Linked DNA regions of Homo sapiens: regions 1, 2 and 4 are each reported to be linked to region 3. Evidence: microRNA targets listed by miRTarBase, many of them from high-throughput screens and not tested one by one. Region 3 holds a microRNA gene; each other region holds the end of a gene's coding sequence.

Region 1 (3,159 bases), not on the chromosome of region 3:
AGACTTTGATATAATACTGTTTATAAATGAATTTATTGAGGGGCAAGATGAAAAAAATCTCATAGCTATATCAGTATGCTATACGGGTCAGCTATATCAGTATGCTGATCAGCTTAGGTTTTAACATTTTTACAATAAATTATTGGTTTATTCTTTAAAAGAGACTGAATGGTGAACCTCTGGATAATTTTGAATCACTGGATAATCAGGAATTTGATTCTGAAGAAGAAACTGTTGAGGATTCTCTAGTGGAAGACTCAGAAATTGGCACGTGTGCTGAAGGAACTGTATCTTCCTCTACGGATGCAAAGCCATGTATATGAAATGCATTAATATTTGACTGTTGAGAATTTTACTGCCGAAGTTTACCTCCACTAGTTCTTTGTAGCAGAGTACATAACTACATAATGCCAACTCTGGAATCAAATTTCCTTGTTTGAATCCTGGGACCCTATTGCATTAAAGTACAAATACTATGTATTTTTAATCTATGATGGTTTATGTGAATAGGATTTTCTCAGTTGTCAGCCATGACTTATGTTTATTACTAAATAAACTTCAAACTCCTGTTGAACATTGTGTATAACTTAGAATAATGAAATATAAGGAGTATGTGTAGAAAATTTGTCTGTTTCTATGCTTTTATGTTGTTCTCTTTCCATTCTTTTGCTAACTACCTTGGAGGAGACAAGGAGAAAACGAACTTAAAGTATTTAGACTGAGATAGCTGAGGTTTTTAACTCCCAAACTTTGTTGTACCTCAAGCTCATTGTAGACACTATTGATATTAACAAGTTGTTTTTGGAATGGAGCATGAGAATCTATTTTCCAAAAGCTTTTCAAGTGAATCTGATTAGACAGTGAGAGGCCCAACTGGCTAGCAGGATCAGACTCTTCTTGGAAGCTTAAAATGATGGATGATGGTGATAATCCTCAAGAAACAAAGTGAGGAGTGGGTAGAAGTTTGACGGAAAAAATCAGGAATAGCTGAAAATTATGGAGCTTTTCTATTTCACATATTGGTATAGTGCAAAGTATGTAAATATTGAAGAATAAGAGTAGGGTCAGATTCATTAGGGATTTCCCATATATACTAAGTTTTGAAGGAGGAAAAGTACAAACTAGGGGTATGTAGCATTGGAACTGAAAAAGTTCTGTGAGAGGCATACAAGTAGTTTTGTATAAATTGGCAATAAAGAGCAATGTCATGCTTTTATTTTTTTTCCTTTGAGACGGAGTCTTGCTCTTGTTGCCCAGGCTGGAGTGCAATGGCATGATCTTGGCTCACTGCAACCTCTGCCTCCCTGGTTCAAGTGATTCTGCCTCAGCCTCCTGAGTAGCTGCGATTACAGGTGCCTGCCACCACACCTGGCTAGTTTTTGTATTTTTAGTAGAGCCGGGGTTTCACCATGTTGGCCAGGCTGGTCTCGAACTCCTGACCCCAAGTGATCCGCCCACCTCAGCCTCCCAAAGTGCTGGGATGACAGGTGTGAGGCACCACGCCTGGCCTCAAGCTTTTGAAAGGATTGTTTTAGGTAAGCATCCTTATAGAACCTTAATTTTCTCTCTCTGTCACCCAGGCGGGAGTGCAGGGGTGCAATCTCAGCTCACTTCAGCCTCCACCTGATGGGCGCAAGTCATCTTCCCACTTCAGCCTCCCAAGTAGCTGAGACTACAGGTGCGTGCCACCACACCTGGCTAATTTTTTATATAGACGGGGTTTCGCCATGTTGCCCAGGCTGGTCTTGAATTCCTGGCATCAAGCGATCCGCCTGCTTCGGCCTCCAGAGTGTTGGGATTACAGGCGTGAGCCACCGTGCCTGGCCTTAATTTTCTTTAATACTGAGATAAAGCCTACCTCATAGTGTTATCGTGAAGATTAAAACCTTTAGTGTCTAGGCTAAGTGTCTTAAAAATGGAAGCTATTATTAATCTATAACAACATTGTCCAGTAGAACTTATTGGGATGATGAGAATATCTGCTGTACAGTATGGTAGCCATTTCTGTGTGGCTGTTTAGCACTTGAAGTGTGGCTAGTGTGAATGAGGTATGGACATTTTAATTTAAGTCACTACAAGAAGCTAGTGGCAATTACGTTAGTGTGGCTCTGTGTGTTTCAGGTGTGGATCACTAGCCTAAAGATAGGATTAATAGGTAAATTAATTTTAAAGGAATTGAAGAATATTCTGGATTAGAGCATGAGGAGACTCAGTTGAGAGGCCTTTAGCATGGTTAAGAAAGAAAATAGGTAAGTAGAATAGGGACTTGACAAATAGAAAGTATTTTTGTAAAATGCCAGAATTTGATGGTGGGGAGCAAAAGGAGAGGGAATTGAAGGGGATTAAAAAACTAAGGTAGTAGCTAAAACCATAAAACTTCTAGATTATATAGAAAAGTTCTTAGTGACTTTGGGTTTGGCAGAGAGTTCTCAAATAGGACACAAAAAAGCATCAACTTCAAATTAAACGTTGTAAATTTTAAAAACTTTTTGAAAGACAAGCAAATGAAAAGGCAAGAACAGACTGGGGGAACATATTTGCAGAACATAGCCAACAAAGGATTTGTATCTATAAAGAACTAGGGTATGTATGAGATGGAAACTAAGTGCATGAAAAGATGCTCAACATTAGTCATTAAGGAAGTGCAAATTAAATGACAACCAGATACTGCTACATACCTTTCAGAATTGTTTTAAGTTTGAAAAATAAAAACAACTCCATCGAGTGTTAAGGATGTGAAACATCTGAAACCCTCCTGCAGTGGTGGTGGCAGTGCTAAATGCTACAACTGCTGTGGAAAAGTTGAACAATTCCTTAAAAGTTATACATACACATTTTATATGACTCAGCCATTCCACCCCTGGGTATTTACCCAAGAGAAACGAAAGCATATGTCCACATGAAGACTAGTTCACACATTTTCATAGCTTTATTTGTAATAGCCCAAATATCCATTGGTAACTGAGTGGATAAATTATGGTATAACTATACAGTGGAATACTATTTAGCAATAAAAAGGGGACAAAAATTGGTACACGCCACATGGACGAATCTCAATGTTGTGTGAAAGAAGCCAGGTAAATACATACTGTATGCTTCTATTTATTTAAAATCACAAAACTACAAAGTATAATGAGAAAGCAGATTAGTAGTTGCCTA
Region 2 (3,000 bases), not on the chromosome of region 3:
CAGGGGAGACTTGGATATGAGGATCAAAGAGCCAAATGTTTAAGAAGAAAAATTAAAAAGGAAAAGAAAAACCTGTTCTCTTCTGGAGAACCCAAGGCTGCCCAGCTAATACAGAAGTTCGTCCTCTGTGTTACAGAATGAGTGGAAAGGGCAGGAATGCAGGGCCATGCCTGCCCAATGCAAAAGAAAATTACTCCTAACGGTTTCTTTACAATATATACAGAGTATGCTGCAGGCCAGTGCCACAGATACAAAACACACAACAATATTTAAAAACAAACAGGAACAGAGAGGGAACCTTGGCTCCACCTCACAGGAGCCCCAGGAGGGCATAATCAGGCTGAAATTCAGTCACCCTCTTGGTTGGGGTGACTCAGGTGGGGTGGGATGACGGTGTCTGCACTAGCTACTTCCACGGAGGAAAGGGAGGTCACTGCTCAGAGCACTGCCCATGAGGGCAGCAGAAGGCAGAGGGAATGATGGGTATGAGGGAGGCTGTTTTGGGGCCCTGCCAAGAGGTCTAAAACAATGGTTTTTGGGGAGGACTCAGAACCCAACTTGAACAAAAACGAGGAGGCAGAAACCTAGGGAAAAGGCCTGTAGATCAGAGGGGATCCTCTTGAGCAGATGGTGACCCTAAGCCTCTCAAGTGTAGGGTTCCAGGGTCCTTGGAAATCAACTACTACTGGGCATTGTGCTTACTGTCCCCTATTTCCCATTTTCCAAACTGAGTCGGAGCCAAGTTCCTGCTCCTAGTCACTTTTGGCACTCTGGTCACACACTCCCTTTTCCAGCCTACACTGGTGTCTGTCAGTCTTTATCTCTCTCTCTCAATCCAGAGGGTCATGGAAAGATAGGAGGGGAGAACAGAGGGATGATACCTCAAAAGCCAAGTAAGCTAAGCTCCCCACACCTTGGGGAAGACATGACCCCAATAAAGCTACCAAATCATCCTCACTTTCCCAGTACAAAGAGTATAAAGCTTCCATTGGGAGACTGCATTTCTAAGGAGAGCAGAGAAATGTTGGCTGCCTCAAAGCACAGCTCCACTGAGTACATTCTGAGACTCTAATAAGTAATGGCTTGGATGTGTTATTCCAGGGTCTAAGGAACAAATAACCTCCCATGGCCAGTGGCCCCTCAAACAAAATATGTGTTACCAAGAAACACAGCTTATATTGGCCCACATGGAGGTTATAGACTGAGCTATATAAAATCATGTACTTGTAGACAGAGGAATTGGGCTGTATATATCTGTGGCCTCAAATGAGGAAGATATCAGATGGCTAGATGACAGGACATCTCCAAGAACTGCTGGGTGCTCCCAGGGGCTGCCTTCTGGGCCTTGCCCTAAGGTGACCTGGCAGACTCCAAGGTTCCCCAAGCTGGGGGGAATACTAGTTTATCTGCCTGAGGCTTAAGAGCCAAGCAGTGGAAAAGAAGAGGCAAGACCAGTGTGGGGATCCCCCTGGGAAAGGCACCAAGGGGTTAGGAGGGAAGGGAAAAGGGCAAGGAGTTGGGGAATAAGAAGCAGCAGGACTTAGTGGGGACGCAGGTTCTACTTCACAGACGTCATTCATGCTCCAGCACCAGCTTGCTCCCAGTGTCCCTGGGGAGCCCTGTGCTGGTGTTGGAACCCCTGCCCCCTGCCTCACAGGCAGCTCAAGGCCATGTTGGGGCAGATGCCTTGGTCTTCCTTTCCAGGCTAGGTTGTGAGCGTTTATATGTGCTCATGTAAATGGGGAGAAGTCTCCACATTTGAAGACCTTGTTTTCACAATTATGTAGAAAACAACCCCCAATTTCTTTCCTGAGATTCTAGTTCCTCCACATGCTGCCAATTCCCAGGGTGCAAAGCACTAGGGAGATGCAGAATCTGGTGATGGTGGTAATGATGGTGAGGGGTATGGCTGCTGTGCTGTCTTCAGACCTTACCCAGTGCTTGGGGGTGGGGGTCCCTCCCTGGTGGGCGGGGGGGCTGGTACTGCTCCAGCAGCAGACCAAGGGCTTGGGGAACAGAGCAGTGGCTTCTCTGGGCTGAGGCCATGTTCCCCTGGTTGCTTCCCGTGCCTTCATCTCCACAGAGGCCACAATAGTCATAACTGTGGCTGAGAGAATAAATATTTTTGCTAAGTACCAGCTCTCCAGCTCCTGAGGAAGAGGTAGGGTCAGGTAGTCCGGAGGTCTGGTGGAGGTGAGATAGCCAAGGGTCTGCCTTCAGTCATGGTGGAAACGGCAAACAGGATGATCAACACCATTTAACTGATGTCTAAACGGCACCTTCAGCACCTCCTTGGGTAAGCCAGTCCGGGCCCGTGAAGCTGACTTTATCCGGGCACTTGGTGTCTGCAAGGGAAACATGGACAGATAACCAGGCACTCAGCCTGTTGGTAAAAAAACCACAAGGTGGCACTCCAAGAAAATGAATTGTAGGAGTGGCCAGTACTGGTCCCTAGGGGACACTGTGTTCCACAGGTCCTCTCAGATGCACATGGCTTCACGGGAGACTCTTGTACAAGAGGCTTGGCCAGGGTTCCATGGATTCCAGACTGCTGACCCCTCATAGCTATTTCTCACCTAGGGATTCTGTGATCCAGGTAGCAACTATCCCGGCTTTATGTGTTGCCCCAAATTAATAAAAGTGACTTACCATTCTCACCTCCTGGGGGGTGGGTAGAGTGAGGGAGTTGAGCCTTGTTGGCTGGCAACAATGGCTGTAGAAGAAAGCCCTGAATAAGCAGGAGAACATGTTAGTGTAGCACTCACAGAAACCTTCCATTAATCTTTTTCCCTGAGTTTTGGGGTGCTGACAGAAAAAAAAATCTGATACTCAGCCAGATATATTTGCTGGAGATAGATAATAAGGCTCTATTTCTCAGCTGATTGTTTCTCTTTGCCTTTGGGGAACACCTGTTCCATATTCTTCTGACTATCAAGGCCAGTATTCTGGAGGAATTTAAGAGTCCCCAAACTCCAAGGGAGGAATAAATATCATATGCTT
Region 3 (3,180 bases):
CATGCGGAGGCCGGCAGAAGCGGGAAGCTGGGCCTCATCTGCCCGGATGATGGGAGCCAGGTGTGGGGAATTAAGTGGCTTCCTCGGGGGCCGGGAGTTGAAGGCACTTCTGAGGAGCAGGACAGGCAGGCGGATTCGGGGGCGCGGGGGGCGGGGTGCACAGGCGGCTGGGTTTGCGTGGCTGGAGTCCCCTGTGGCTTCGGTGGGGGGAGTGGGCCTTGAACTCGGGCCTGTGGAAGGGCCTGGCTTTTGTCTGAGAGGCTTAGGGGAGACCTAGGAGAGATTAGATCACGCGCTGGCAGGGCTGTCTGGCCAGGGGACTGGGGCCCAGTGGGGATCAGGCTGCAGGGTCAGGCAGCGGCCACTGGCCGGGAAGAACTGAGACCCCAGTGGGGAGACCCCAGCCCTGCTCCCTGTTCTGGCCTGGGCTCCCTCCCTGGGTCTGGGATAATAAGCCCTGTAGGAGTGTAGAGACCCTGGACCCCCTCTCAGGCTCTAGGAGGGCGATGGGAGGCAGGGCCATGACAGCTGAGGCTGCGGTGTCTGCAGGACCTGGACCATCTGAGAGCTGCTGGGCCGGGGCTCTGATGCCCAGGTCCAGGCCAGCCTGTGCCTACCTCTGTCCCTGAGGGGGGCGCGTGGGACCCCAAGAAGCCATGGTTTCAGGCTCTGAGGGCAGAAGCACTCCCTTACCTCAGTTTCCCCATTTTTGAAATGGCTCAATCGGCTGGGTGCGGTGGCTCATCCCTGTAATCCCACCACCTTGGGAGGCTGAGGCGGGCGGATCACCTGAGGTCGGGAGTTCAGGACCAGCCTGACCAACATGGAGAAACCCTGTCTCTACTAAAAAATACAAAATTAGCCGGGTATGGTGGTGCATGCCTGTAATCCCAGCTACTCAGGAGGCTGAGGCAGGAGAATCGCTTGAACCCAGGAGGCGGAGGTTGTGGTGAGCCCAGATCACACCATTGCACTCCAGCCTGGGCAACAAGAGTGAAACTCCGTCTCAAACAAACAAACAAAAGAAACAGCTCAGAGAGACTCCGCAGAGGGCTCTGAAATAAGGATGGGGTGGGGTTGGGTGAGCCGACCCTGTAAGGTGCCCCCAGCTATGGGGTTAGGCCCAGGCAGGACCCATGAGTCTGCGGAGCTTCTGTGAGCGGGGCTGGTGGTGGGACAGGAGGTGTCCTGCCTGGACGTGCTCAGGCCCTCCTTTCCTCAGCCTTCGACCTCCCCTTTCTCCAACACGCCCTGCCTTTGGGGTGCAGGAGGGAGCACCCGCAGGTGGGGTGGAGGTGCCGCCTGGCGGTGGGCTGCGGCCAGTCTCCCTGGACTCCAGTATCTTCTTCCTGGGCCCTCCAGGGTCACCTGGGTCTAGGTCCTGGTTCTACTTAGGGAGGGAGGCAGGCTGGGAGAGGGGGACAGAGGGCCTTTTGTCCTGTCCTTGAGTTTCTTCAGGCTTGAATGGGCCTTGGAGTCCCACCTTCATCCCCACAGGGCACAGGGGTGCCCAGATCCTCACAGGGCCCCAGGACCCTCGCCTGGGCCAGAGGGCACCTCATGACCACGTGGGCAGCCTCTATTTAAAGATGGACAAGGTGAGGCCTGAGGGCCGGCCTGGGACTGACCTCGTGGACAGGGCTGCCTGCACCGTGTGGCCCCAGCAAGGCCTGTGTAGATGGGAGGAATGGGTGCAAAACAGCACCTGTGTCGGCTGTGGCGTGACTGTCCCTCTGTGTCCCCCACTAGGCCCACTGCTCAGTGGAGCGTGGAGGACGAGGAGGAGGCCGTCCACGAGCAATGCCAGCATGAGAGAGACAGGCAGCTTCAGGCCCAGGACGAGGAGGGAGGCGGCCATGTCCCCGAGCGGCCGAAGCAGGAGATGCTGTGAGCAGCCCCATAACGCGTGCCTGGGCTCTAGCCCCTATCCGTGTACCCTGGGGCCTGGGCAGAGGGGGAGGTCAAGGGCCTGGGCTTGGGGGTTCCAGTGCAGGATGAGAGCGAGGAAGGGCCCCCAGGAGCAGGCGTGGGAGTGGGTGAGTGCTCCTGGGGCGAGGGTGGCCACAGCCCTAGAGGAGGGTCTGCCAATACCTGGCTGCCTCCTGGGCGCTGACCCAGGCTCTGTGTCCGTGCCCTGGCCCTTGCTCGGACCGCCTCTGACCCCAGCCACGCAGCCTGGCCGAGCCCCCCACCAGACTCCCCCGCCAGTGACTCACAGAGCCACGTCCAACTTGGCGGCCAGGCTGGCTTGCTTCCTCCTTGGGCCCAGGAGGCCTCCGCGGCTGGGCTGGGCTGTTTTTCCAATAATGCTTCCCTTCCTTCTGGCCTCTTTTGTTCCATTTTCTCCAAGTCAGCAGCCTTGGGCAGAGTGGGGTTCAGCGGTCACCATAGTCAGGCCCTTGGCCACCCCCACCAAGGGCCCCAGCTATCCAGGGGCTCCCCCTGCCACATGGGAGGCCTGAGAAGTCGGGGCTTAGGAGGACCTCATGTAGGGTCCTCATGTGGGGACCAGGGCAGCCCTTGGGGAGCCCCAGGATGATGGGGGAGGCACAGCCCTGCCCTAGGGAGCCCCAGACTGATGGGGGAAGCACAGCCCTGCTGTTAGGGAGCCACAGGCTGACGGGGGAGGCCCAGCCCTGCCCTAGCGAGTCCCAGAGTGATGGGGGAGGCACAGCCCTGCTCTTAGGGAGCCACAGGCTGACAGGGGAGGCACAGCCCTGTCCTCAGGGAGCCCTACACTGATCGAAGAGGCACAGCCTTACCCTCAGGGAGCCCCAAACTGATGAGGGAGGCATAGCCCTGCCCTCAGGTAGCCCCAGGCTGATGGAGGAGGCATAGCCCTGCTGAGCCTCAAGGAGTCCTGGACTGATGGAGGAAGCACAGTTCTCAGGCTGCCCCAGAACTGACGGGGGAGGCATAGCCCTGCCCTCAGGTATTCTGACCACAGGAGACACAGCCCAGAGCCAGCTCTGTGGCAGACAGGGTCTCCCACACTTGGAGTCCAGGGCCTGAGCGGGCGCCGTGAGGTGAGTGTGGGCCCTGGGCAGAGGAGGCAGCAGCCGCCCAGGCCTAAGCTCCCCCCTGCTACCCTCAGCCTCAGCCTGAAGCCCTCGGAGGCCCCTGAACTGGATGAGGACGAGGGCTTTGGCGACTGGTCCCAGAGGCCAGAGCAGCGGCAGC
Region 4 (3,000 bases), not on the chromosome of region 3:
TTTTTAGTAGAGAGGGGGTTTCACCAGGTTAGCCAGGATGGTCTCGATCTCCTGACCTCATGATCCGCCCGCCTCAGCCTCCCAAAGTGCTGGCATTACAGGCGTGAGCCACCGCGCCCGGCCAGGTGCTGTTATTAATAGTTATTCATGCAGCAATCTGAAGTTGTACTTTATTTATTTATTTATTTTAGAGGCAGAGTCTCGCTCTGTTGCCCAGGCTGGAGTGCAATGGCGTGATCCCAGCTCACTGCAACCTCGGCTTCCTGGGTTCAAGTGATTCCCCTGCCTTAGCCTCCCAGGTAGCTGGGATTATAGGCGCCCACCACCACGCCCGGCTAATTTTTGTATTTTTAGTGGAGACGGGGTTTCACTATGTTGGCCAGGCTGTTCTCGAACTCCTGACCTCAGGTGATCTGCCTGCCTCAGCCTCTGAAAGTGTTGGGATTATAGGCGTGAGCCACTGTGCCCGGCAAAAGTTGTAAATTATTTTCCCTGGCTACCATAAAATGACTTTATAAGCCACATTTCCAAATTATAGTTTGTTGATCAATAAATCACAAAGTTATTCAAAACAGGTGAAAGTCACAGCTCATGAGAAAAGGATCACATTAGAAGTGGAGAATGACACCTTCAGGGAGGGCAGTGTTTGAATAGTAAAGAGCGGAAACACTTCTTACAGGGCACTTCAACTATATTTTGCTTCCAATTTATCTGTTATAGAAAATCCTTCCTGTGCTTCATAGGACATTTTCACAGGGTTAATTCTAGCTGCTCTTGTAATTAAACCAGAAACATATAAAAGCTCAAAACCAGCAAGACTCACTTGTTCCCTCATGAAAAGGCCCAGTCTTCCCACATCGCAGGCAACTTCTCCTTGTCCTTGGTCACCCGGGGACCCCAGCTTGCTCCTGGTTGGTCCACTCAGCTTCTATGTGCAGGTGGCGGCAGGAAGAGGCCATGGAGAGAGCACTCCCAATGGCTTGTCTCCACTGCCCTGGGCGAGAACACACGGTGAGGTGCTCCCTGACGCCGCTGGGGCTGGGGAATGCAGTTCTCGTCAGGCAGCTGCACACGGACCTCTCTATGGCCTGGAGGAGAGCATGGCCTTCGCTGGATGGCTGACCGTCTCCACCACACAGGATAGGAAAGCCCGACACTTCTGCAGCAAAGTGGGAGTGGAAGTACACTCGAGAGAAGGGAAGAGGCCCTGTCCCGGGGGCCTCGGTGGTTAACAGGTCTAAAAGATGGACCCGTGCCGGGCGTAGTGGCTCACGCCTGTCATCCCAGCACTGTGGGAGGCCGAGGCAGGCGGATCACCTGAGGCCAGGAGTTCGAGACCAGCCTGGCCAACATGGTGAAACCCCGTCTCTACTAAAAATACGAAAAATTAGCCAGGCATGGTGGTACATGCCTGTAATCCCAGCTACCTGGGAGGCTGAGCCTGGAGAATCGCTTGAACCCGGGAGGCAGAGGTTGCAGTGAGCCGAGATTGTGCCACTGCACTCCAGCCTGGGCAACAGAGTGAGACTCAGTCTCAGAAAAAAAAAAAAAAAAGATGGACCCAGCCTTATGAGCATTTGGGAGCATGAGACTGAGGCAGGATGTGTTTCCTCTACTCGGCTCCCAGGCATTGAGAAAGGAATCCGGTTTTACGAACATACGACTGCTTTCAAAATATTTTCAAAATATATTTTATTTCTTTCTTACATGTATTTTGCAAAATTTCCAAGGTAAACATTAGCTCCACATACAGAAATAAAAGAGTTCTTTAAGAACTAGCATTGAATTCATCACAAGAATCATCAAATTATGATAATGGAAAACAAACTTGCCTATGACCAAAGCTACTGAGCTGAAGTGAAGAGCTGTCTTTACAAAGATCCCTCTCATTAAGCCCACTGCCCTGCAGCTGACTCAAGCCATCATCATGTATGTACGTGTATAAGAAAGGACACTGGCCGGGCATGGTGGCTCGCGCCTGTAATCCCAGCACTTTGGGAGGCTGAGGCGGGCGTATCACGAGGTCAGGAGTTTGAGACCAGCCTGGCCAACGTGGAGAAACCCCCGTGTCTACTAATAATACAAAAACTAGCTGGGTGTGGTGGTGTATGCCTGTAATCCCAGCTACTCAGGAGGCTGAGGCAGGAGAATCACTTGAACCCAGGAGGTGGAGGTTGCAGTGAGCCGAGATTGCGCCATTGCACTCCAGCCTGGGCGACAAGAGAGAAACTCTGTCTCCAAGGAAAAAAAAAAAAAAAAAAAAAGAAAGGACATTGGCACAGTACAGCAGCTTTGCAACCTCAAAGATGGTTTGAGTTTTAGTTCCCATGAGTACATCCTCCACAGGTATTGGGTGCTTTGCACTATTGACTTAGATGGGTCAGTTCTGAAGTTTGATTAAGACATTCTCTTGGAGATACATTTTATATAAATCTTGTAATGTGCTAAATTGTCAAATTGTTAATGGTACTAAATACTCAAGGACATTATTTTGTATGGCCCCTACATTTCTGCATCATCGTCGTCGTCATCATCATCATCTTTGGCTCTGAAATGCATTTTTCTGAACTCTCGTCTGCTCATTGAAGGACAAGATGAAGACGCAGGTGGGAGGTCCTTAGTGGAGAAGAAAACATGACTTCAGTCATGAGCAATACATATCTGCACCCGCATTTGCAATGTGCCCCACCCAGCGGCTCTAGGGCTCGCAGAGCGCTCTTCCCTTTTAGACGTGTGAAAATGCCTGAGTCCCAGCACTCGCCTCTAGATGAGAACTTCCTCCCTACTGGGCTGATCGAGTAAAGAGAAGGAAAGGTGCTGGGTTCAAAACAAAAGAAATTAACAGCAAGCGCGGGGTGGATGTTCAAAAAAACCACAAACCTGATTTCATGGAAACACACCTTTCCCGAGAGCAGTGATTCTCAGCTCGGGAGATGCAGGGAGAGCCCCCAATTAGCCAACGGTTTCATTTTCTCCTCGTGGGTTAAAATGATTAGTTTA

What was found. The annotated mature microRNA hsa-miR-7847-3p reads CGUGGAGGACGAGGAGGAGGC and lies in region 3 at 1,768-1,788, shown strand. An mRNA with a match to its seed (bases 2 to 7 or 8) in the 3' UTR can be bound and repressed. Matches are read on the target gene's strand: a 7mer-m8 pairs with bases 2 to 8, a 7mer-A1 pairs with bases 2 to 7 and ends in A, and an 8mer does both.
Region 1: miRTarBase lists GMNN as a target of hsa-miR-7847-3p. Seed matches in the 3' UTR shown: 7mer-m8 at 369-375.
Region 2: miRTarBase lists ZNF609 as a target of hsa-miR-7847-3p. Seed matches in the 3' UTR shown: 7mer-m8 at 2,188-2,194.
Region 4: miRTarBase lists C1orf174 as a target of hsa-miR-7847-3p. Seed matches in the 3' UTR shown: 7mer-m8 at 2,168-2,174.

The regions. Positions count from the first base shown.
Region 1 is chr6:24,785,477-24,788,635 of GRCh38, forward strand. It overlaps GMNN (geminin DNA replication inhibitor), which reads left to right. Exons shown (of 7, transcript NM_015895.5): 7 at 162-623. The coding sequence ends at 323. Among named protein-coding and RNA genes, the nearest start is that of ARMH2, 12 kb to the right of the region's middle.
Region 2 is chr15:64,681,037-64,684,036 of GRCh38, reverse strand. ZNF609 (zinc finger protein 609) reads right to left here. Exons shown (of 10, transcript NM_015042.2): 9 at 2,650-2,728; 10 at 1-2,345. The coding sequence ends at 2,655. Among named protein-coding and RNA genes, the nearest start is that of OAZ2, 21 kb to the left of the region's middle.
Region 3 is chr11:1,878,338-1,881,517 of GRCh38, forward strand. It overlaps MIR7847 (microRNA 7847), which reads left to right and starts at 1,708; the gene lies at 1,708-1,810. It overlaps LSP1 (lymphocyte specific protein 1), which reads left to right. Exons shown (of 11, transcript NM_002339.3): 2 at 1,750-1,887; 3 at 3,095-3,180.
Region 4 is chr1:3,887,458-3,890,457 of GRCh38, forward strand. C1orf174 (chromosome 1 open reading frame 174) reads right to left here. Exons shown (of 4, transcript NM_207356.3): 4 at 1,676-2,616. The coding sequence ends at 2,503. Among named protein-coding and RNA genes, the nearest start is that of C1orf174, 11 kb to the right of the region's middle.